Regions from separate parts of the Homo sapiens genome. Here regions 1 and 3 are each linked to region 2. The links come from fine-mapping of genetic effects on gene expression. A gene starts in region 2. Each other region holds a variant in brackets. All regions are shown on one strand. Distances are between the middles of the regions. Region 1 overlaps COL16A1 (collagen type XVI alpha 1 chain). Region 2 holds the start of PEF1-AS1 (PEF1 and COL16A1 antisense RNA 1). Region 3 overlaps COL16A1 (collagen type XVI alpha 1 chain).

The links.
Region 1: its variant is fine-mapped to the expression of PEF1-AS1 in cerebellum (GTEx, PIP above 0.99). The same link has a PIP of 0.9 or more in cerebellar hemisphere.
Region 3: its variant is fine-mapped to the expression of PEF1-AS1 in prefrontal cortex (BrainSeq, PIP 0.95).

The regions. Positions count from the first base shown.
Region 1 is chr1:31,669,992-31,678,166 of GRCh38, forward strand. COL16A1 (collagen type XVI alpha 1 chain) reads right to left here. Exons shown (of 71, transcript NM_001856.4): 43 at 5,267-5,320; 44 at 5,016-5,048; 45 at 2,733-2,849; 46 at 2,605-2,646; 47 at 2,425-2,511; 48 at 1,624-1,668; 49 at 611-655. LOC101929444 (a long non-coding RNA gene) reads left to right here. Exons shown (of 2, transcript XR_001737631.2): 1 at 1-361; 2 at 841-1,076. Among named protein-coding and RNA genes, the nearest start is that of PEF1, 29 kb to the left of the region's middle. The variant A/G (reference allele first, on the strand shown) is at 3,101.
Region 2 is chr1:31,639,458-31,647,632 of GRCh38, forward strand. PEF1-AS1 (PEF1 and COL16A1 antisense RNA 1) reads left to right here and starts at 4,679. Exons shown (of 6, transcript NR_184313.1): 1 at 4,679-4,839; 2 at 5,255-5,389. PEF1 (penta-EF-hand domain containing 1) reads right to left here and starts at 5,419. Exons shown (of 5, transcript NM_012392.4): 1 at 5,384-5,419. The coding sequence starts at 5,407. RefSeq lists enhancers at 5,149-5,919, 5,239-5,308, 5,549-5,888.
Region 3 is chr1:31,691,461-31,699,630 of GRCh38, forward strand. COL16A1 (collagen type XVI alpha 1 chain) reads right to left here. Exons shown (of 71, transcript NM_001856.4): 5 at 7,023-7,146; 6 at 6,446-6,712; 7 at 5,760-5,840; 8 at 5,503-5,628; 9 at 4,628-4,681; 10 at 4,301-4,327; 11 at 3,726-3,761; 12 at 2,684-2,710; 13 at 1,632-1,694; 14 at 1,307-1,348; 15 at 1,138-1,182; 16 at 1,014-1,049; 17 at 545-607; 18 at 138-182; 1 more. Among named protein-coding and RNA genes, the nearest start is that of COL16A1, 8.5 kb to the right of the region's middle. RefSeq lists enhancers at 5,002-5,511, 7,656-8,170. The variant T/C (reference allele first, on the strand shown) is at 4,881.

The DNA of each region.
Region 1 (8,175 bases), 31 kb after region 2:
GAGAGTTTCCTCTAGGACGACGGAAAAGGCGCAGGAAGGGCTGCCTTTAAATCCCTGGGTGCCTCTGGACAGCCCTGCCAAGCAGCAGGGCAGCAAACCTGTGCCAGCCTGCAATGTGAAGCCCTAAAGCTTTGGCATCTCTGCTGGGCTCTGAGCCAGGTGCCTGGCAGGGCCCCAAGAACTACTTTCAGCAAATCTTCAGGCAACGCCGAAGGTGGTGAGAAGCAGGAGGCAGAGCGAGAAGGCAGGAATGGAGGGGCCCCCTAGAGGCACCAGCTTAAGAGGAAGGTTCACGAGCTCAGGAGGACTTGGGGGAGTGCTGCAAGATGGTGCGAGAAATGGAGAAGGAAGACAGAACGGGGTAAGAGAGAGAAGAGGAGAGAAAGAACGCAGGAGAGGAGGGAGAGGAGAAAACGGAAAGGAGTCAGAGACTGGGAGGATGTCCAAGCTGCCGGGACCTCAGAGAACCCGTGTCGTTAGCTACCGTGCCTGAAGGGGGACAACAAACACGGAGGACGGAGGTGAAGGCACGACAGGAGGGAGACAAGCAAAAGCCACAGAGACCTGGCTGACGGGGGGGAGGGGAGGTCGAGCAGCGCTAGGTTCTTACAGGCAATCCGGGGGAGCCAACAGCACCAGGAAAACCTGGGGGGCCCTGGTGGGAGAAACAGGCAGGTCACATCTCACAGGCACAGTAACCCTGGGACAGCCTGGAGGGCACAGTCTGGGGCTTGGGGGTCATGGGGAGAGGAGGTCATGGGAGTATTTTCAAGGCAGCTGGAAAAGAGACTCCTTGAAAGTCTTGGCTCAAAAGACAACTGTTCCTCCCCTTGGCTCCAGGAAGAATGGCTCCTCCGTTGACGGAGATGCGGAATGGCTCCAGAGTCAGAGGGCTTCCTGAGTCTTCCGGAGTCTAACTGAAGATCCGGTTGCAGCAGAAGCCCATTTCTTTCAGCCTTGCCCACCATGCCTGCCACCCGACCTCCACCTGTCCCCCGAGTGGGGGGCTCCCTGGCTCTAAGACAGCTCCCACCAGCCATTTTCTTCTCCAGAGAAAGCATTTTCAGTTCTTTCAATCTTTCCTAGTCACTTCTATTTTCCTGCCATGTCAACATCACAGAGGACTCCAGAGTAGATACCCTGGTCTGGTTTTTGTAGATTTACCCTAGAGATGGCCCTACAGAGCAATGGAGGACAGCTCCATCTTAGCCCCGAGCCCTTGTGGGGACTGGAGTCACAGGGGCATGGAGAGGTCTGGCCAGCATGCCGCATGCTTCCCTGGTTGGGAGGCTGTGAGCCTGAAGCCTAGGCCCCCTGCCGAGGGCGGCCTGGGGCCACTGTGGAAAGCGCAGCAGAGGGTGGGGACAGGGAAGCAAAGAGGTGCCTCTGAGGACCTCCCCTAAGCAGGACCGCAGGCAGTAGGCAGAGCAGGGCGGTTCCAGGGCATCCGGTGGTGGGAGAGCACAGTCCCTGCAGATGCTCTGCGGAGGGATGGGGAGGGCAGTGGAAGTTCCCTCCTCCTGCCTTGCCCAGCCTTTTGGGGACAAGGCCGCGGGATGGTGTCTGAGTGTAATGACCCCTTTGAGAGCTTCTCAAGCAGACCAGGGCACCACTGATACTTACGATAGGGCCTGGAGGACCCGGGGAGCCCCTCATGCCAGGCGGACCCTGCAAAGGAAGCCAAGGGAAATGGATGAAGAGGCCCAGGCCCCATAGAGCCCCTGGGATTCCAGCAGCCTTCCTCCCAGCTTGCCAGGGCCAAGGTCAACAGAGGGTGGCTGCTGTCCAAGCAGGACCACTTAGCTGATGTTCGAACAATCTTTCATTTGGCCCATTCGGTCATCCTACAAACATTTAACAAGCAACTATTACGTACCAGGCATTAGTCCAGGGGCTAGGATCACAGCATAAACAAAATAAATAAAAACCCCTGCCTCAAAGCAGTTACATTCTAGGGGAGAGACGGACACTAACAAATAGAACAGGAGCTGGCACATAGTTGGTGTTGAGCTGACACCTGTAGAATGTTCCTGAATGAAGTAAATAGGCAGGATGTTGGATGGTGATGAGTATGATGCAGGCCAAGGGGACTGGAGGCTCTGGGGTTGGTGTGGAGTTCAATTTTAAAGAGGGTGGTCAGGGGAGGTCTCTCTGAGAAGGAGACATTTGAGCCGAGCTGAAGGAGTGCAGGAATAAGCCCTGGAGAAGAGCGTTGCAGGCAGAGGATGCAGCTGGGCACTGGGGAGAAAGAGTGTGTCCTACGCTGGGTCCTGTGTATCCCAGAGAAGCCACGTGCCAGGAGAGCAGATGAGCCCAGAGTGGTAAAGGGCATCAGTCAGGTGAGGCCTCGGAGGCCCCCAAGAGGTCTCAAAGGCAGACAGGGCCCCAGCTCCCTTGAGGATGAATCCCCATCCCTGGTCTTACCTCTTCTCCTCTCTGGCCTGGCAATCCCGGAGGACCAGGTAGGCCTGGGCTCCCAACACAGCCAGGATCTCCCTCACTGTTGTCACCCTGGAGAAGGATGGAGACGGTGATAGTGAGCAGTCAGGGCCTGTCCCTGTGGGGCATGGGGCATGATCGGGGGAGATAAGGCGAGGCACTCACCCGGGCCTCCTCGGCTCTTGGGCGCTCCAGTGACAAAAAGCACTGCAAGGGACAATGAGAGGCACATTGTCTGATGAGGCAGCCAGGGAACCCTCCTGCATAGGGCAGCCCCAAGCCCAGTCCCTTACCTGGGCGCAGTTGTCGAGGCCTGGCACACCAGGGATGCCCTGGTCTCCCTTCTCTCCCTTCTCCACGAGGTACCCTGGGTGGGCCCTCTGCCCCTGGACACAGTCCCCGCAGATACTCTGATCAGGGAGTGGGGAGAGGAGTGGGGCCTGGGTTAGAGATGGGCAGGATGGGCCAACTGGGGAGCCCCAGTGAGAACCCAGAGCCAGGGCTCCCTGCCCTGCCGTCTTCCCTCCTCCCACACTCCCTCCCTCCCCAGCCGCATCCCTGCGGCAGCTTTGCTCCATCCTCGGGGGACCCACTCCCAACAATTGGCTTTGAGTTTCCTCCAGGAAGAAGCTCTGGTACAGCTAAGCCAAAGCCACTTTCC[A/G]GACAGGCATGTGGGTGGAGGCGAGGGGCCCGCAGAGGGACCATCTGTCCCGGCTGTTCCTGCAACCTGCACCCACTGCGAGGACAAGCCACGAGGAGTGAGGCTGGAAAGGCTGGCTCCGAACGCCAGCTTCTCTGCCCAAGGGAGCAAAGGAACAGCTGCGGGAGGAGCCAGGCCCTTCCCAGGAGCCCCTGGGACAGATCTCAGATTGCTCACAGGCTCCTGGCTCGGATCGCGCCACCAGAATTGTCTTCCCCACAGGAAGGGCTTTAACCTTCTTTGGGTCACAGACCCCTCTGAGAGTTTGATGGAAGCTATGGGTCCTTTTCTCAGAAAAATCAAACCCACTAGTGAAAACCAGCCTGCAATTTCTGAGGACTCAGGAGCCCGGAGCCTGTTTGTGGCCAGTGTCGTGTCCACAGATGCCCAGGCAGGAGCCCCTGCTCACTTTCACTGCTCACCACCAAGCCCAGTAATAACGACTGGCATTTACTCAGCACCCATGACGCTGGGCATTGTACATAATAAGCCCTGCACATTATCACATGCCATCTTGACGGCGCAGTGAGACAGGGAATCTTATAAGCATTGTGGAGATGGGAAAGCCCACTCAAGAGAGGCGGCGTGACTTGTCTAAGGAAAGTGGGAGCCTGGATTGGCGTGGGCCTGTCCTAGGCCACAGCCAGTGCTCTCTCCCCAGGCTTCCTGGACTATGGGTGCAGGTGGTGGCTGGGGCTCTGGGTCAGCATGCCCCGGGGTGCCATCTGACCCCTTCTCCACACTATGCGCACTTTCTATTTGGAATCCTCTGAAGAGCACTTGATGAAGAAGCCAACAGATGAAATGTTACAGGAGAAATGTCAAATCCTGGATTTGGAGTCACACGATCACTGCCCAGTCATTGACAGAAGCAGAGGGGAGAAGAGCTGGGGGTTTCGTTGCCACAACCTCACTGTGATCCAACATGTAACTGATGCCAAGAGGTTACCCCGACCTCCTCTGGCTGCTTCTGGAGAAATCTGCCGTTCAGAGCAGGGAAGGGGTAGACAGCCCCCATGCTCTGCCCTGACCAAGGCCCATCGGGGTCATGGGATGTCCAGGGCACTAATTAGCCAGTGTCAGAAGAGGGTGGCCAGGATGAGGGGGGGCTCTGGAGGCCAACACATGGGAAAGACCCCTGAGGATGCTGGGCTAGAGGAGAGAAAGTCCAGGAACATAAGGGCCTCCTTCAAAAACCTGAAGGCAACCTGGGGAATTACTGTGCTCTCGTTTCTAGAGGTGACTAAGCAAAGATGGGCTATGTGACTCTTGATTCCAATAGGAACTTCTGCTCAGTTTGGGAAGCCGGCCCAGGCCACAGCCCTCTGGTAGAGCATTAAGGCTGTGTACAGGCCCTGGCACAGGCCGACCCTCTGACCAGGTCCGAAGTCCCCTTTCTTAGACTACCAGAAGTGCTTCTCAAATCCATCTCCTCCCTGGATTCTTTCTGGATTGACTAGAGAACAGCTGAAGCTTTCTTCCAGGCCACACCCAATCTCACAGCCCCCCACCACTGCACTTTCACCCCCTCTGCTTTGCTTTGGAAGCTGCTGGGCTCTGCCGCAGGGTGACCCGGGTGCTACGGGGTCTCATTGCCAGCTGCTGCGGGCAGGCTTCAGGGCTGGGTTCTGCCGACAGCATCTGCCATGTGGGCACCTTCACAGGATTCCTTTAAGCACTCATTCAGCAAATGTTGCCTGGGGGCCTGTTACAAGCCAGGCATCAGCTAGGCCCTCTTAGACAGATGCTTGGAATGCGTATTCCCTGCAAACTGCTGCTCTCTCTGCGAGGTGCCACACAGCTGAGCACTTACTAAGAGAATCCCCTTAGGAGACACCCCCGCCAGCTCACACTTCCCTCCTGGGTACCCTCTTACCTTAAGGAGGTGCTGTTCAATTGGTAAGGATCCCTGCAAGAGACAGATGTGTGGGCTCAAGCAGGTGAGGGGAAGGAACATGGAGACTTATGGGATCAGGGAGAGCCTTGGGACACGTCATGCACCTTCCAGCCTCAGAAGTGGGAGAGAAGAGGGACCCCCACTGCAGCTACCGGGCCAGCTTCATAGCCTGAGCAGCCCTGGGAAGGGCAGGGAAGGGGCATGCACAGGGAGTCCTGGCCAGTACCCACCAGTTCTGCAGTGAGCCCAGGCTGTCCTGGCAAACCGTTGTTTCCAGGCACTCCCTGTAGCCAAGAAGAGACACGAGTGAGTGGGCTCCATCTCTCTAGCCTGCTGGTCAGCCTGTTTCCTTCTCATCATCCCCGCCTCCTCTTCCCCTTGTCCTGCAGAGCTGAGAGCCCTGGCTGGCACAAGGCTGACATCTATTCTTAGCTCAAAAGCCTCTCGACCCTTATAGGGAAAGCCAGGGAGGCCCAGAAGAGCGACCCCCCAAACCGTCCAACAGCAAGTGTTTTCCCCCCACATCAGAGGGAAGGTCAGAAATTGAGCAGAGGGTCTTCCATGGAACTACTGTTTATTTCTGTGCTAAGTCGTTTTTCTATATTTTCTCTCTTTCTTTTTCCTTTCCTTTTCTTTTTTCTTTTTTTCTTTGTAGAGACGGGGTCTCACTCTGTCACCCAGGCTGGAGTGCAATGGCATAATTATAGCTCACTGTAGCCTCAAACTCAGCTCAAGCGATTCTCCCACCTCAGCCTCCTGAGTAGCTGGGACTAGAGGCGCTCACCACCATGCCTGGCTAATTCTTTTGTGTTTATTATAGAGACCAGGTCTCGCTGGTAGGCTGGTCTCAAACTTCTGGGCTTAAGTGATCCTCCCCGCTCAGCCTCTCAAAATGTTGAAATTATAGGCGTGAACCACCACACCCAGCCTATTTTCTCGTTTAATCATCACAGCTATCTTGTTGAACTAGGTGCTGTTATCTCCATCTTAAAAATAGCACAAAGAACCCAGAGGAGGCTGGGCACGGTCACTCACACCTGCAATCGTAGCACTTTGGGAGGCCGAGGTGGGCGGATCACCTGAGGCCGGGAATTCGAGACCAGCCTGGCCAACATGGCGAAACCCCGTCTCTTCTAAAAATATAAAAGTTAGCAGGGCATGGTGGTGTGTGCCTGTGGTCCCAGATACACGGGAGGCTGAGACAGGAGAATCACTTGAACCTGGGAGATGGAGGTTGCAGTGAGCCAAGATTACGCCACTACACTTTAGTCTAGGCAACAGAGGGAGACTCCGTCTCAAAAAAAAAAAAAAAAAAGAACCCAGAGGAGTAAGTAACTTGCCAAAGGTCACAAGTTGAGCAAGGCACAGAGCTGAGGTCCAGAGCAAGGATCACTGGCTTCTAACCCCTCTCTTAACCACAATTCTAGCATCATTCCTCAACAGACATCCCCAGAACATTCATGTACACAGCAAGGGTGGGTACTTGCCAGTCAGATTCATCTAGATACAAAATTCTGACTACCTGTATAACTTTTGGCAATTTATTTGGGGGAAAAAAATTCTATGCCTCAGTTGCCTTATCTATAAAACAGGGATAGTTTATGGTGAGGCTTCAAGGAGACAATGGCTGCAACGATGTTTACATTAAATCCATGCCACCCGGACAATGTTCCCCTTGCAGATTCGTGAGGCACATTTGCATATTAAATACTCCATGGAGGCAGGGAGTATGTTCCATTTTGAATCCCCAGCACCCAACATGGAGGAGATGTGCAGTAAGTACGTGTTGAGTGAATGCACCGCTGCTCAGCCTGCTCCTCCCTGCACAGGATTTCCTTGGCGCACTCTGAGATCTGGCCTTCCTTCAAGTCCCAGCTCCCAGCAATGGAACATATCACCAGCCCCCGAGCAATTTCCAGGCAGGCTCTACCAGGCCTGGGTCAGACCCGGAGCCAGCCACCATCCAGGCCCCCTGGCACCTCTGTGCACCATCAGGGCTTAGAGCAGTGCCTGGCACAGGGAAAATGCCTTGAACATGTCAATTATTATTTTTTATTTATTATTATTATTATTATTTTTGAGATGTATCACTCTGTCGCCCAGGCTGGAGTGCAGTGGTGCAATCTCAGCTCATCGAAACCTCCGCTTCCTGGGTTCAAGCGATTCTCCTGCCTCAGCCTCCTGAGTAGCTGGGATTACAGGCATGCACCACAAAACCCGGTTAATTCTTTTTGTATTTTTAGTAGAGACGGGGTTTCGCCATGCTGGCCAGGCTGGTCTCGAACTCCTGACCTCAAGTGATCTGCCGACCTTGGCCTCCCAAAGTGCTGGGATTACAGGCGTGAGCCACCACGCCTGGCCCGAACATGTTAATTATTATGCCTTAAATCATTATTCATCCCTTGCTCCCCTCTCCAGGGCCAGTGTGATAGTTCAAGCCTGATACTTTGTAATTGTTTTCCTGACCTCTCAGAACTAAATGTTCTACCTGTTGTCCTACTGCGGAAGCGAAGTGCAGCCAGAATTGAAAGCTGGGCTCAATGACCTACTAGTTGCCTCAGGCATCTTTCTTAACCTCAGTGCCTCAGCTTCCTCCTCTGTGGAATGGACTGAGATGAAATGAGATAACTAAGCACTGGGACAATACAGCCTTGGATGAGTAAGTGCTGTACATCCCTGAGCCTGTTTCTATACCTGAATAAAGGAGCTGCTTGGCCCTCCTGCATCCCACCTGGCATGGGGCAGGTACCTGTGAGCAGCAGCCTCGGCTTGGTCTCAAGCACTGGCACTAGGTAAGGACTCTGGTGCCTGGGACCAGACTCAGCAGTCACTCTTTTCTGCCTCATTCCCCAGCATGTCTTGGCAGGGTTTACACTACATCAGCTCTCGCTTATTAATGGGTCACTTTGAAATGACTCTTACACTTCCCCAAGCAAACTGCAAGCCCTCTGCAGACAGATTCCTGTTTCCTGGCAGTGTGGCAGGAAGCCCCAAAAGCCCCAGACACTCGGCAAATGTGTGGCTGCAAATATGTGGCGTGGGCTCTAGTTCAGCACTTCCAATAGGGTAGAGAGAATTGGGATCCTGGCAGAGACTCCCATCGGCAACAGTGGCTCACTAGAGCAGACTCCCAGCCCAC
Region 2 (8,175 bases):
ACAAATATTTGGACAAATGAACACCACTCTAAAGAGTTTTGTTGGGGCTTTATGCCGGAGAAAACAGAGCACTATAGAAGGGTTTCCAATAGGAGAGGAACGTGATGAGAACCTTGTTTAGAGAAGTAACCAGCGGCGGTGTGGAGGATGAGCCAGTGAGGGAGGCAGTAGCCCAGGTGCTGGGCAGGCAGGGCATGAACCAGACAGCACACTTGGGGATGAAGAGAACGGAATGGATTCTGAAGCTATTTCAGAGATAGACCAGACATGACTTGGTGACTAATTAGATTAGGAAAGAGATGGAGGAGGAGTGAGGAAAGTGTTCAGAATGACTCGGGTTTCTAGCTTTTGCACAAGATGAAGGAGGTGGAGCCAACTGAGACAGAATGCAGGCTGCACAGGAAGTTTGGGGAAGAAGATGAGGTGGTCCCCACCTCACAGAGGGTCACCCAGTGTCACTGAGTTGTTAGCAAAGGTCTGAACCAGAAATGAAAAACAGCATCCCTGACTCCACGTTCTTTTACACTACTCCATGCTCCCAGCCCTTTTTAGAGTTTTTCCAAGAGTTATTTCATACTGATAAACAGGATTGTGAAGGCAGGTGGAGGGGAAGGACAGGAAGAGTTCAGTAACTGCAGCTTCTGAAGCAACACAGAAAAACTATCTCTAGGGCTCTGGCTGATTGCAAATAAGCTACATCTGATGCCCTGGGGGGACTGGGGGCAACAAACATTTACTGAGGCTCTGCTAGGTGCTTCCAGTTCAACCAGCTCTCACTAATCCTCAGTCCTGTGAGGTAAACAGTGTCATCTCCATTTTGCAGATGAGAAAATTAAGGGGCAGAGAGTTTAATAACATGCCTGAGATCATGCAGCTAGAATGGGCAAGTTGGGATTCAAGTCAGGGTCTGCATGACTCTACACTACCCCCTTCTGTTTGTTCACTCAATAAATGAGTGAGTGCCTAGCATGTGTCTGTGTGAGGGACTGTGCTAAATGTCTTTGTCAAATATAATGAATTTCTACTGTGGACAGAGGTAGAGGGGAAGGCTGGATTGGGTGATCTCTCAGAGCCTTCAAGCCCAGAAATCAGGGACTCTTAGAAAAATCTCATTCTTTTTCGTCCCAGCACCTAGAGTCACTTTGAGAGCCAAGCCACATTTTGGAAGACACCCCAAAGACTCTTCAGTTCAACCTCTCAGTTAATAATGGAATCTCTGCAGAACCACCTGGAATCTCTACCTGCACTTGCGCAAGCAGTAGGGAGCTTACCTCCTCCCAAATAACCACCTCAGAAAGTCCGGTATTTTTTTTTTCTTTCCAGTTCTGAGGACTCAAGTCTTCTAACCTCAAGACCCCTGTGAAGCTTAAAGGTATCAACGGCTGTTCCAAGCTGAGCCCTGATGACGAATGGAGGAGGGAGCATTGCAAAGACAAGTTTGTACCCCAGAGCTACCCTTCAAGTGCACAGGAGGAGGTGGGAAGCCCAAACTAAGGGGTTAAACAATCACAGGAAGACAAGAGGAACAGTTCAAGCATTCACCAGCAGAGCCACTTGAAATAGGAGAGAAGCACGCAACCAATAAACAATGAGCCAAGAACCATCCCCAGACTTCAATTACCTCTGTGCTCACACTTTCAAATCTTTCCAGCTTCATCACTCCTGAGCTACAGACCCACATATCCAGCAGCCTACTGGACCTTCCCTCCAAACCCATGCCTCCCTGTGTTCTCATCTCAGTGAATGGAGCTCCGTTCTGCTTAATCATCCAAACCTAAGGCCAAGTTTTCTCAAATCTACCTCCCAAGTGCTTCTCAAATCTCCTCTACCAGGTCACAGTTCTCTTTAGCCTAGATTACCTCAATAGCGTCAAAACCGGTATCCCTGCCTCCTGTCTCTCCTGCTTCAATCCATTCTCACAGCACCCCACAGTAAGCACTCCAAAGCACAAATGGGACAAAACACTTCACTGGCTCCCTCACTACTCTTAGGATGAAGTCACACTCCCCAAAAAGGCATACAAGGCCCTTTGGGATCTGGCCCTTGCTTACCTTTCTAGTCTTATTTCCTACCCCTTTCCCCCACATCACTACAACTACACTGAACTTCTTAAAGTTCCTCCAAAATACTAGGCTGTCTTACCTGCTTCATGGGCTTTGTGCAGCTATTTCCTCTGCTGGAATAGCATTCCTTTCTTCACTCAGCTAATTTCTACCAGTGATTCAGTTGTTGGCTTAAATATCACCTCTTTTAAAAATGCACCCCTAGACTGAGTTAGGTATCTCACTCTCCCGTGCTGTACCTTACACTTACTCCCATTGAATACTTATCACATTGCCTCTTCAATCTGCATAACTGCATTACTCCTCCACTTGGAGTATTCTACATGCCCAACACCATACCTAGCACTTTACGTGGATTTTCTCATTTAATCTTTAGAGTAATTCTGAGGTAGATACTATTATGACCCCATTCTAAAGAAGGGAAAACTAGTCCAGGCGTGGTGGCTCACGCCTGTAATCCCAACACTGTGGGAGGCTGAGGCAGGTGGATCACCTGAGGTTAGGAGTTTGAGACCAGCCTGGCCAACATGGCGAAACCCCGTCTCTACTAAAAATACAAAAAATTAGCCAGGTGTGGTGGCGTGCGCCTGTAATTCCAGCTACTTGGGAGGCTGAGGCAGGAGAACTGCTTGAACCCGGGAGACGGAGGTTGCAGTGAGCCAAGATTGTGCCATTGCACTCCAGCCTGGGCGACAGAGCAAGACTCTGTCTTAAAAATAAACAAATAAATAAAAAATTTTTTTCAAAAAAGGGAAAACTGAGTCTCAGACTTTTGCAACAAACTTCTGCAAGGGAGTGACAAAGCAGGGATTTGAAATCAACTCTCTCTGGCCTCAAAAACTAAGCTCTTAAGCACTGAAATCCACCAAGCTCGTTCCCCCATAGGACCAAAGGGTGCTTGAATTTTACTACTCCAATACCCAGTCCCTGCTTGGGTACCCTGGACTGGAAGCAGTGGAAAATTACAGGAATTCTGACTCCTAACAATAGGCTGGAATCCTCCAAAGCTATGTAGTGGGTGGAGGGGAGGCAGCACTGACTGAGATGCTTTAAAACAACTCGTTTCCTTTCTTAGAACACCTGAGACCAGGAGGCGGACAAGGGTATGGTAGGAAAAAAAAACAACATTTCTTTTTCTATTCCAGACTCTTCTCTCTGTGCTCCTTTTCAGTATTTCACTCCAGGAATAGCCCAGGCAGCATGGCATCATGAGAGCAGTCACGGCAGCAAGAGCTGCCACCAGACACTGGCATGTACTAGGCACTAGCAACACGCCAGGCTCCCTGCATTTTAACCTCATTTTAGCCCTTTTCACAGGTATTATTTCTCCCTTTATACAGGTGAGGAAGCTGAGGCTCAGAGCCCTTAGTTTGTCCAGGGGTATATAACTATTAAGTAATACAGCTAGAATTCTAGCACAGTTCTCTCTAACCTGTCACTGCTTTTAGGATGCACACCAATTGTCCCTAATGCTTATTAGCATGTAGATTCCTGGGTACAGAACAGGTCTGAAGTGGGACCCAAAAGTGTGCTTTCTTAAACAAGCTCTCAGCTGATTCTGAGGCAGAAGACCAGCCACTGGGAAACAAGGCGCTATGAATGTTTTTTCAGCCTGTGTTCCTCAGAAATACTAGAGTCAAAAAAGTGACCAGACATCTGAAAAGAAAGCCGGGAGGCGGAGTTTCTATGGTTAGATATGTTTAAGAAATACTGCATATTATATTCCTTTCTGGATGATTTACAATGTACATTAGCAAATTAAGGATTCTGAAATAGCTTGTGGTCAATAAACTTATTCAGCTATACTTAAGAGTATTTCCAAAACTTTAGTTAACTACAGAATCCTCCTATATTAACAATATCTATTAAAACCTCCCAAGACTCAGCAAATGGAATGGACTTTAGGAAGCAACTGCTATGCTACACTTCCTAACTCCAGCCCGCACTGGCCTCTCTCTTTCCTACCTCTCTCTAAGGATGCAATAAGAGAAGTCCTAAGCTCTGGTCATGGCCTCACCCTCACTTACTACGTGTGACTTTTGGGAAGCCACTTAACCTCTTTGGGTTTGCTCCTCAGCAGTTAATTAGGGGTAATAATACCTGCATGCCGATAGGGACTTCATGATTAGGATAATGGAGGTCCAAACACTGTGTAACCCGCACAAGACTGCACTCCCTGGAAGGACTGTTACATCTTTTGGCCTGTGACTAAACTCAGTTGAGCACTGTGTAATATACCAATTGATCTTGTTTTCCCACATTTCGTTTATGGATTTCATCTCCTAAATAACTGTGTGATCGCAGCCCTCTGTGGGCTTCATTTCCTCCTCTGTAAAATGAGGGCTCTATTTTGAGGACCCTCCGGGCACTGGCCTTTTAGAAGTCTACTAAAAATCAAAATGCTAAAGGGCAACACATGTTACACCTCACTATGTACCAAACGCTTCGTAAGCATCACCTCCTGACTCTCCACAACAGCTTTATGAGGCAGATCCTATTATTCGGCCCTATTTTACAGGCGGAAACTTGGACTCAGAAAGGCAAAACAGCTTGCTCAAGGGCTCACAACTATTTAGGTGGTAGAGCTAAGATATGAACCTACCTCTGACACCAAAGTGCACTTCAACACCCTACTATCACCCAACAAAGAATTCTGGCCACAGAATCACCTTGCTGCGGTATTCCTGACTGAATCAAGATACGCTGGGGAAGAGGCATCTGAAGATAGCCCGGGTTCTGACCTCGGCCCTGCTGCCTAACTGCCTGGTGACTTCAGGTAAGTTCTGTGTCTTCTCGGGGTTCACTTTTCTACACGCGAAATGGCGGTGTTGAACTAAGTCAGTGGTCAAACCAGCTCACTTGTGGCGCCTGCTACAACCAGAGTTTCCTGATGACTCTGATGCAGTGTGGGGTGGGTCCGGAAGCCTGGATTTTTATCCGACGCCCCAAATGAGATCGGCGGAACCAGAACTCTAAACCTCCGGTCATGGCTGATGCCCCCGCCCAAGGCCCCCATGAGGGCCTTGGGAGGCTGTGGAGCCCAGGCCAGCGCCAGCCTGGACCTGTGGGGTCCAAGGTCCCCAAATCCTCGAGTGAGCGACGTCAAGGGGGCGCGACACGACCTCGCGAATGTGCGGTCCTTCATGACGTGAGCAGGGCGCGACCGACGGTCCCTTTTCGGTTCTCTACAGCGCAAGGCCTCGCTGAAGCGAACCCATCGTGGGAAGGGCGCGGAGAAAGCGGGGAGAAAGAGCAGGGGGACGTCGGGCCTGCGCCTGGCACCGCCGCTACCTGGATTCGCGGGCCCCTCACACACTCACCTGCCGGTAAGGATAGCTGGCCATGGTGATTCTGACGTCACACTCAGGCAAGGGGTGGGGCTTTCCGCTCTCAAACCCGCCCCTCGTCTCGGCTTTGGGGCTGGGCCCGCATCTGATTGGACGTCCGCGCCTGTCAATCTTGGGTGCTGTCGGCCGACGGAAGTGACGATGGGGGCGGTGGGCGGATGCCTACCCGAGAGACCAGGGGAGCTAAGTGATTGATGGAGCTTCCGGAAGTCTTGGCGGCTGTACCAGCGCTAATGTTCCTCCTTTTCCTGAGGTGGAGTGGGCCGAAGAGGTGGTCAGGTTGGGAAATTTAGTGAGAAGCCTGGGTGGGGTGTTGCTGCGGTAGCCATGTTATAACCTGGCAAATGGGACGCATGATAGTGACGTAATTGCTGGAGTAGCTCCTGAGTTTCCGCAGATGAGCCGCGGGAAAGGAGACGAGGGGCGGTGGCCAGGCGGTTGCCCTGACAACGGGGAACCGACCGACTCTTCCCGGTAGGGAGAGGCGATGGCGGAATTACTCCTCTAATGTCAAGGTACTGGGTACCAGTTAGTACCCTTGTAGTGGGATACAGATCTGTGGTCTTTGGAGAAAAAAACCCCAGATCATTAGAGTTGGAGGAAAATTGAATTATCTAGTGCCTCTTTCTTCATAAATGGGGAAACTGAGGTGCAGAGAGGCAGTTGCCTTGCCCTAGCTCACAGTGGGTCGCCTAGAACCGGGGTCAATGGATGTCCAGTTCTCAGCAGGGAGGTCTAGGTCGGTCCCCATCGTAGGTCAAATCCTGGTGACCGAGTGATCTCAGCACCATGTACTTGCCACTCAGTGGTTCCGTTTCTACACTTATTTGTGTGCTTATTTGATTTCTTTGTCAAGTTCTTTCATGTGGGCTAGGGTTTTGTCTGTTTTTGCTTGTCATTATAACTCCAGTACCTAGTATAGCGACTGACACGATTATTAAAATAAATGAATAAATGAATGTTACGAACTGTTATCCAGTCTAGTCCATCTATCTAACCAAGTGCACTTTCCAAAATCACAGTGCTGATCATGCCACTTGCCCACTACACAGCCTACAATGGATGCTCTTCATCCACGCCTACAAAATAAGGCCCAATCTCTTCATTCTGGTACTCCAGGCCCTTCAGAATCTGGCCCAGCCTCAACTTTCCAATCTTACGGCCCCTTCTGCTACTCTGTATTTCTGTGCTCAGTTCCACCATTCAGCACTTCTGCTTTGGAGGGAGGATCTTTGTTTTATCACTTTCTAACTGTATCACCTTAGGCAGGTTTTTTGTTTGTTTGTTTTTAATTTCCAACTTTTAAGATCAGGGGTATATGAGCAGGATGTGGTTTGTTACATAGGTAAATGTGTGCCATGGTGGTTTGTCGCACACATCATCCCATCACCCAAGTGTTAAGCCCAGCATCCATTAGCTATTCTTCCTGATGCTCTCCCTCTTCCCACCTCCCTCTACGCTCCGACAGACCCCAGTGGTGTATGTGCTCTCCTCATTCAGCTCCCACTTATAAGTGGTAACATGCGGTGTTTGGTTTTCTGTTTCTCTGTTAGTTTGCTGAGGATAATGGCTTCCAATTCCATCCACGTCCCTGCAAAGGACATGATCTTGTTCCTTTTTTATGGCTGCATAGTATTCCACAGTGTATATCTACCACATTTTATTTAGGCAAGTTATTTAACCTCTCTAAATTTCACTTTTCTTAGCTGACAGGAACAAATGTGTAAATTTGAAAATGAGCTTATTATACCTGCTCATGCCCCAAACTTAGGTTCAAACCACTCCTTTCACCTGGACCAGCAGCCCTCCCAACTCCAGTCCTGCAAGGCTCAGTTCCAATTCCATTCTCCACCTAACCCTCCCACATTCCCCTTAGCTCCAGAGTTAGCCACTCTCTCTTGCCACTCCCCCTTTGCACTTGGTACTGTCACTGTGTGGTATTCCAGCCTGCCTTGTATAAGAGTTTTCTTTTGGTGTTTTCCCCAAAACCCATTCCTCTCCATCTCAGAAAATCCACCCAGTCTCTCAGGCCAAAAACCTAAGATCATTCCTGTGTGTCCTTTTTTTCTCCACACACTCCCTCACCTCCCTCATCTCCATTTGCTCTAATTCAAACATGTACACATCTGCTCTTTTCTCCCTGTTCGCACTATCACTGTAGTCCAAGACACTATCATCCGTGCCTGGATCACTACAATAGCCGACTGACCAATGTTCCTGCTCTCACTCTTCTCCCCACGCTTCATTTTCTCCACAGGCAGCCAGAGTGGTTATCTTATTCCTTGGCTTCAACTCCCTGGGGACTTCCCATCACTCTTATAATAAAAGCTAAACTCATCCTAATGACATTCATGGCCACACATACCAGCATCTCCAGCCTCATTTCTTGCTGTTGCTGTCCCCCTTGCCTCATTCCAGCCATGCCGGCCTGGTTGTGCCATTCCTGGAATGTACAGAGCTCATTCCTGGATGTTGGCTTTGGCTGGTCTCTGACTGCCTGCTCATTCCTGCCTCCAGGTCTTTGGACTAGCTTTTCCCTCTGTCTGGGATAGTCTTCCCTTGACTTTTCACTGGTTGGCTTCTCCTTATCATCCAGGTCTCAGTTCAGATATCACCTGGGGTGGGGGGAGTTTCTTGACACTGCCCCCCAAGCATTCCCATCATCTATCTTATTTTTTCATAATACATGTCACTAGTTGAATTGTCCACTTTGTTTACATGTATATTGTAGAATTGTCATTTTCTTATGTAGTCCTCTAACCTCA
Region 3 (8,170 bases), 52 kb after region 2:
GGGGCCCAGGCTCTCCTGCCAGCCCCTCAGGCCCAACAAAGCCAGGGTCTCCCTGGCACAGACATAAGGTGGGCATCAGAGAGCTGCCACCCCAGCCCTGCCACCCCATCTCCACCCCACAAACATCCACAACTCACCTTCTGCCCTTTGGGCCCAATGACACAGATCTCTCCTGGCCGGCCCTGTGGGGGGATAAGGGGGAGGGTGTACAAACAGCCCTGAGGCCTGGCACCGCCCCACTGGGAGAGGTGAATGCCCACCTGTCCCACCCTCCCTGCCCCTCCCCCAAACCAGAGCCCACCCTGGTGCCCCAAGGTCAGCACATGTCAACCTTATGGTGTTAGAGGTTCGGGGCTCTGAGGCTGGGAGTGAGGGGGCCTGGGCTCAGGTCCTTTTCTGTCCCCTTCTTGCTGTGCCTCCTGTGGCACAGCCCCTCCCCACCCTGTCTGAGCAAGGGGAGGGGGCTGGATTCCCGAAGGTTAAATCCCAGCATTCTCAGACCCCGTGCTGTGGGTTGTGGTGGGGAAGGGTCCCAGGCACCTACGTCCCGGCCTGGCTTTCCCGGCACGCCCTTGATGCCTCCGTCGCCCTTCTCGCCTTTCTGGCCCTGGGGAAGGAAGAAGCAGAGTGACCAGGATGAGGGAAGGGCCTGGGACAGCTGGGCAGCTCCATCTGGTGGAGGGACAACTGCCTTCTAGACCCCTGGTCTCTGTCTCCCCTGAGGGTGAATGGCTTCAATCACCACGGGAGGGTAGACAACAGACCAGACAACAGGTAGAACTTCCAAACCAGCCAGGCCACTTACTGGGGGAATCTGTGGCATTTCCCTCTAGGTCGGCTGGGTATTTGGACGAGGCAGGGTGACTGGGGTGGGGGAGATGGGGGAGGGAGGGTCCTGCCAGCTCTGTGCCCACTGACACCCTCTCCTCAGAGAACCCCGACTCCTCCTTCCTCATGGCTGTAGAGCCTGCAGACCTCCCTGGAAATCCCCCCTCCAAATCCAGGCTTGTTACCTTCTCGCCTGTTGAGCCTGGGAGTCCTGAGGGTCCCTGAGATGAGGAAGGGAGACAGAGGAAGGGAGGGTAAGGCTGGGCCCTGGACCCACCATCCCTGCCCTATCCCTGGTCCCACACTCACCAGAGCTCCTGACTCCCCCTTCTCTCCCTTCGGGCCTTCTGCACACTGAACAGGGGAACACAGTGTTGAGAGGGGCAGAGGGTCACCTGATGGGCTGCCAAGCGCACAGTCCCTCCCCAGGGGCTGGCCCCATATTGGCCCTGAAGCAGGCATCACCTCCAAGTCTTACCTGAAGTGGGGCATCCGGGGAGATTCGAACACAGTCATTGCCCTGGGAGTAGGGAACAAGGGATCAGGGGTGGGAACTCCTGGGGAAGTCCCCTAGATGTGTTGTGAGGAGGATCGGCCCGGGAACCCCATAGTCCTAAGTATCCCTAGAAAAGGGGGGCTTCTACACCCAAACCCCTAGAAAGACCCTGGCCCTCACCCCCCTCCCGTGATCTGGGCCAAGCTGCAGGCTTTCTGCCGGGATGATGGGATGATGGCTCACATCCCACCTCACCCCAGGGCACAGCTGGCAAAGGTCCTGCCACGGGCAGGGCTGGGACACTTACCCGTGCTCCCTTCTCTCCCTTGGAGCCTGGTGGACCAGGCAGGCCCCGCTCACCTTTCCCTCCCTGAGAGTGAAACCAGAATGGAAGATAGGACCAGAGGGGGCACATGGGAGCCTTGAGAAAGCTCTCCCCACTTCTGGCCCCCTCCACCCATCCCCCCACACACGGGTACGCAAATACGCACACATGTGAGCAGTGTCCTGCCCCACGCCTCCCCCCACCACACACAAGCATATGGATTCCACACCTGTTCATCCACATGCCCTCCCACCCCAAGATGCTATATTTGGCAAATCTACAGTCTCAAGCAGGGGGGTATCCCATCCCCCACACCCGTACCCAAGCACATCAGCTCACACACAGCACAGCCGGAGGCATATGGACACACACATGCACGGTGGCAGAAACCCATGCTGGCTGAGTGTCAGGCTGCCTGACTTCAAATCCTGTACTTGCTAGCATGTCACTCAGAGCAGGTCATGTCGCCTTTCTGAGCCTCAGTTTCTTCATCAATAAAACGGTATTGACGAGCACACACAAGCACAACTCACAGTTGCATAGCTTCGCTCCCCATCACTCACAAGCTCTGCAGCCTCGTTAGGCCCACAGGTATATGGGTTCAACTCCAGCCTTCGTGTGCCACACATATGCAAACATGTGTCCCAGAGATGCATGTAGCCACACCCACACATAATCATTCTAACACACCCTGTCAGACATATGTGGGCACAGCTGGGCCTCAGTTTCCCCTGAAGTAAAATGATAGCACCCACCCTGCAGGCTGACTATTGAGAGGGTTCAAAAGGGTAATAAGTGTGCATAGGTGTGGCCTAAGGCCTGGTGCACAGAAGGGCCTCAGAAAAGGGCAGCTCTTAGCATCTTTGCACACACACAAACCCCTGCTTTCTTTACCACGCATACACTTAATCACCCTACACACATACAGGCTCAGGTGGCCCTGATAGAAACACACAGCCACAGGGTCACATGCTGTGGGAATGGCTGGGGATGCTAAAGAGGACGGGAATGTCCCGTTCTCCATTAGGACTCACCTTGGGGCCAGAGGGAGCAAGTGTGACCTGAGGGGACAGAGGAGAGGGCATCACACTTCCGGTAGAGAGAGAAAACCAGGGGCCCAGAGAAGTCAAGCAATTTAGACAGGGTCACACAGCATGGTAGCAGGACCAGCAGCCTGTATCCCAGCCCCTGCTCTGCTTCCCAGGCAAACTAGCAAGCCGATTCCATTTCCTCAGCCTGTAACATTTGCAGAGGGTCTAACCTACCTCCTCTAAACTGCCTGGCTTTGGTTAGCTCCGCCTCCCAGTTGCTGGGATAACATGGCTGCTTGGTTTCCATGGTAACCTCTGCACATCTGGGGACCATCAGTCTTAACAGATTTGGTGGGGGACTGGATTGAAAGAGGGAGCAGGGAGCCTAGGAGGTACTCCTGATGTCCCCCAAAGTCAGGGGGCTTAGAGCTGAGGGGAGCTGGGGTTGTGCCCTTGGTGGACCAATGTGGCAGGTCAACTCAGAATGTTAGGCCCCAGAAAAATGGTGACTCATGCTGCCTATGGAAGAGGCACAGTTGGGTGCCAGCTGGGCTCACACTGAGCCCCTCTCCTTGCCCTTCTGGACCCCCATAGGAAGGCTGGACCAGGGCCAGCTAGAAAGAGACAGCAGGCCCTGAACCAACGCTGTGGGAGCCCTTGCCGTGCTGAGCCAGCTCTTCCCCTTCTCTAGGCCTCCAGGAGAATGAAGGAAGCCTCCACCAGGGCAGGGGGAGAACTTGCAGGGAGTGCAAAGCTGCGATCAGCAACCAAGGCGCTGGTCCTGCCGGCCACCATCCCGTGCCCATGCCCTGAACCCGAACACACTGCAGATGACAAGGCAGGTCACAGGCTTTCTTCCACACAGTCCTGGCTTGGTGGAGATGGCAGTGGGGGTTAAGCCCGGCTCTGGGAGATGGGCAGGGAGCGAGTGTGAAAGTGTACAAAGACCCCCTTGTCCTCACCCAGGAGGCTGCCAAGCCAGCTCTAGGCAACGTCCACTCCCGGCTCTTGCCCGCTCCACCCTGCACACCCTCCATTCACTCACATTGCTGTCCCGGGCACCATGGACACAGGGCGGACACTGAAAGGGAAGAGCAGGCGAAGAGGTCAATTCTGAGCCCCTGGGGTGAGCCCTCCCCACCTCCATCACCACCAGGCCCACAGAACATCACACATATCTTGAGTGGAATCTGAGGGGAGCCTGAAGATAGGAATCCTATAAAACAAGCCTCACCCCTCATTTCCCACCCACCCAGCCCCACAGCCATTTTTCAGATGGGGAAACTGAAGCCCAGAGAGGAATAGCAATATGCCCCAGGTCACACAGCATGCTGGGGCAGAGTACGGCCCAGAATCCAAGGGCACCGTGGCTGAAGGCTGGGCTCTCCCCATGATGCCCGTGGCCATTTGCTGCCAACTCAGCAGGAGTGTCCTCCAGGGCTACCTACCCCCCAACCCAACGAGAGGCAGTGGACAGACAGGGCCCAGCATCAGGCCCTCAAGGAATGCCAGGAGCTGTGTAGTCAGCCAGCACCCCTATGCTGAGGATCCGTGCCCAAAGCCTGGTGCAAAGGGTTCATGCTGGCACCTCCCCTGCTGCCAGTCCACTGGGAGGCTTACCTCATCGGCTGCTGTCTCCTGATGGACCTGAGGAAAGGGTGGGGGGTGTGGGAATGGGCAGGGAGCTCAGGGGGCCGAGCACTGTTTCCAACACCCCTACCCCCAAACCAACAGGAGTGGGCACTCTAGAGAGTGCCAGGCACTGCGTCTGTCTCACCCCCATCCGTCCTTCTTGATCAGAGCTGGCACCTACATGTCCTAAGCTCTGTCCAGGAGGTGGGAAAGGCGGGAGGAGAGTGGGAGTGGAGCACCTTATCCCTGGGGTTTACAGGGGCACAGAGGGCAGACTGAGGGCAGGTAGGCTCCTCCCCCCACCCCCACCTCTACCTTTGCTCCCCTTTCTGCCTTCTGGCTGATTCTTCCCGTCAGCTGGGCATCCACCTGGGCAGACAGAGCAAAGAGAAACCCTTGAGGAGGGGGAAGTTCTGGGGTCCAGGCTGGAAAGGGGCACCCAGGCAGGGGGCATGGGCCCCAGGTAATCCTTCAGCCTGGCATCTGGCACCTCCTGGGGCATCAAGGGCCTGCTCAGGCCCCTGTGGCTGCCCCAACAGGTCCCCCTCCTTCCCCCCCCACCCACCCA[T/C]GTGATGTCAGAGCCAACAAGACCATGCATCAATGGGATCCTGTGTTCCTGCAGCCCAAGGCTGGGCAAGATGCCCGAGCGGGCAGGGAGAGTGCCCAGCCAGGGGGTGGGGCTAAAGGAGGAACCAGGCTTCCATGCCACCTCTAAAGAACCTGAGAGTGGGCAGACAGCTGGCCATGGTGCTGGGTGTAAAACCAGTCTGGCCCTGGCCGGCGCTGGGCCCAGGAGAGTGAGCCATCCCTGGGGGGAAGCAGTATGACCTGACCTCTGATCCCAGGTATCTCTGTTCTGGAGAAACTGGCTTTGAGGGACAAGCCTGGTCCTGCCCTCATCAGAAGAGTCTGGATGGCATCCGTGAGGGTCTAGGCAGTGCCAGAGCTAGATGGTACCACTCTCAACACCCATAGGTAGGTGGGCACAGGGCCACCCAGTGGTGGCCAGTGGGCTGTCTCTGCCTCCCTGAATCATTTAGGGGTGGCGTACAAATAGGGAGGGCTTCCAGTGCCCCTCCTGCCCTGGGCCCATGGCCAACTGACCCTGGTGGCAGACGTCAGTCAGCTCAGGGGAGGGGTATCTCACTTGTGCCTGCCTGTGCTGGCATCCACCTGTCCTGCCCACCCACCTCGCTGTTTTGAGGCTCCTCCAGGCAGAAGCAGCGGGTGTAGACCTTGCCTTCAGACTGTGGATTGATCTCAATGAGCTCATTGCTCTGGGTGTCCCGGCGGGCCTTGGAGGTCTCTGGGGGGCACTGTTTGGTGGAAGAGCGGGGCTAGGGTCAGTACAGGAGCAGACTCCTCCTAAGACCTCCAGGCATCACCTTCCAGACCCTCATCTCCAGCACAGTGTGTCCCTGGGCAGCCCAAGGGCCGGGCCACTCACCCCTGCTGGTAAAATCTCACAGCAGCCCTCCTCCAGCACGAGCTCCGGGTCACAGTAGATGTGCACCTGCTGAAGGTCAAACTGCAGGAGACACACACATCAATTTCACTTCATTTTATCAAATAGCTCTGTGTCCTGGCCCCCCAGGAGGCACAGAGATGTCTCTGCCCCAGGATGTGACCTCAGGGTGTTTCCAGTCTGGCCTGGGAGACATCAAAAATAGAGTTGTCACCAAAGGCAGAACAAAACTGCGCACACAGGAACGAGGGAGAGGAGGCCCAGAGGAACAAAAGAGGAGGAGGTTCCATTCATGCTGGGCTTTGAAGGGCTGGTAGCTACTCAGCGGATGAGTATGCAAGGAAAGGCATTCCAGGTGGAGGTAACAGCGTAGGCAAAGGCACGGCAGTGTGAAAGCACTGGGTGCGCTGGATGGCTAGGATGGAATTGATCAGAGCAGAGCTGCACGGAGAGATGTAAAGGAAGATGGTGCTGCAGACACTTATAAGGACCAGATCATGAAGGGCCTTGAATGCCAGGTGAATATGTTTAGGCTGCATTTGGAGGGCAACAGGAAAGCAGGGGAAGATTCTAAGCAGGAGAAGGACTTGTTCCGATACGGATTCCAGGAAGCCCACTCAGGTTCCCAGAAGGCAGGAACAGAGGTCAGGGCCTGACCTAGCACTCACCGAGACAGGCTTGCCCTGCTCAGCATCCAAGCCTAGAAATACATGGCCCACAGGCCTCATGGGTCGTCGGGGCCCCAGAGGCTGGGAGGAGGCTGAGCTGCAGTCCACGTGCACAGAGGCCACACGTCCAGCCACACTCAGCATCAGCTTGTGCCAACGCAAGTCGAAGAGCTGGGGCACTGGGAAGATGCAGGACACAAAGTCGCCATCCTGGCCCTGGGCCCTGAGCTCCAGGCTCCGCTCTTGGCTGTTGACTTCCAGGGATATCTGGGTAGAATTTGGAAAGGGAAAGGACAGAGATTCAGAGCTCCAGAGTCACACCATGGGCACGTTCAGGGACCTTGAACTCATTTCACAGGAGGGGAACTGAGGCCCAGAAAGAGAAGAAAGCCGGCTGGGGTCAAGGAGCTATACATCCTGAAAGAATGAGGTAGGTACTGGTGGGCTGGGGACAGGCTTGAGGGTAGGCACAGGATGGAGCAGGGAGACCCCAGAAGTCACAAGCCGGGATGAAAGGTGGGCTGGACTGGTGCTACCCAATGCCCTAAGAGGCAATCAGGGCACAGGGGAGGTTCACCTGTGGATACCCATTTGCATCGGTCACTTGAAACAGATACCACGTCTTCTGGTGGGTGTGTTTCTTCAGCAGTAGTGTCAGCACCAGGGCAAACTCCTCCGGGAGACCCCGAGGGAATACTCTTCTGGAGATGGAGCAGGGAGGGTGCCCTGAGGCTCCAATGAGGACCCAAATGCTGCCCACCCTGAGCCCTCAGGACTGCTGAGCCTACCCAAGACATCCACAGGCACACATCTTCCATCATATACATTCATTCACTCTCCATACCTTTACTGAGTGCCTTCCGCGAGCTAGGTGCGGGTCTGGCTGCTGGGAATAACAGTGGTGAAGGCTGGGTGCGGTGGCTCATGCCTGTAATCCCAGCACTTTGGGAGGCCGAGGTGGGCGGATCACCTGAGGCCAGGAGTTGGAGACCAGCCTGGGCAGCATGGTGAAACACCGTCTCTACTAAAAATACAAAAAATTCGCCAGGTGTAGTGGCAGGCGCCTGTAATCCCAGCTACCCGGGAGGCTGAGGCAGGAGAATTGCTTGAACCCAGGAGGTGGAGGTTGCAGTGAGCCAAGATCACGCCACTGCACTCCAGCCTGGGCAACAGAGCAAGACTTGGTCTCAAAAAGAAAACCAACCAACCAACCAAACAAACAAACAAACAAAAAACCCACATACACAGTGGTGAAAATACAGAGGCACTGCCTGCCTTCATGGAGCCTTCACGTCTGATGGGGGCAGGGAGGCCATGAGCAAAGAATCCCCAGAATGACTATTTCGCTATCGCATTGCAATTTGAATAAGTGCTTCCAATGAACCCAGAATACCCTAGGTGAATAACTGGAGCAAGGGTGGAAGGAGAGATACTGAAAAAAAGATGGAAAGGGTTCAGCATGACCAGAGCAGCAAGAGATAAAAAAGAGCATTTTGAGAGCTGAGGTTGAAGAGGCAAGCAGGGGCCAGGCCAGGGCTTGTGGGAATTTGGACTTCACACACATGGGTGCACACACACGCATGTGCGCACACACACACATGCACACACGCACATGACTCTTGCCAGGTTCCCGCCCACATCCTGTGTTCTCACAGTGCCCACAGGATGCAGACCTGTTCCCACCCACTGCTGGCCAGAGACAGGGGAAAGACAGAAGGTAGGTCT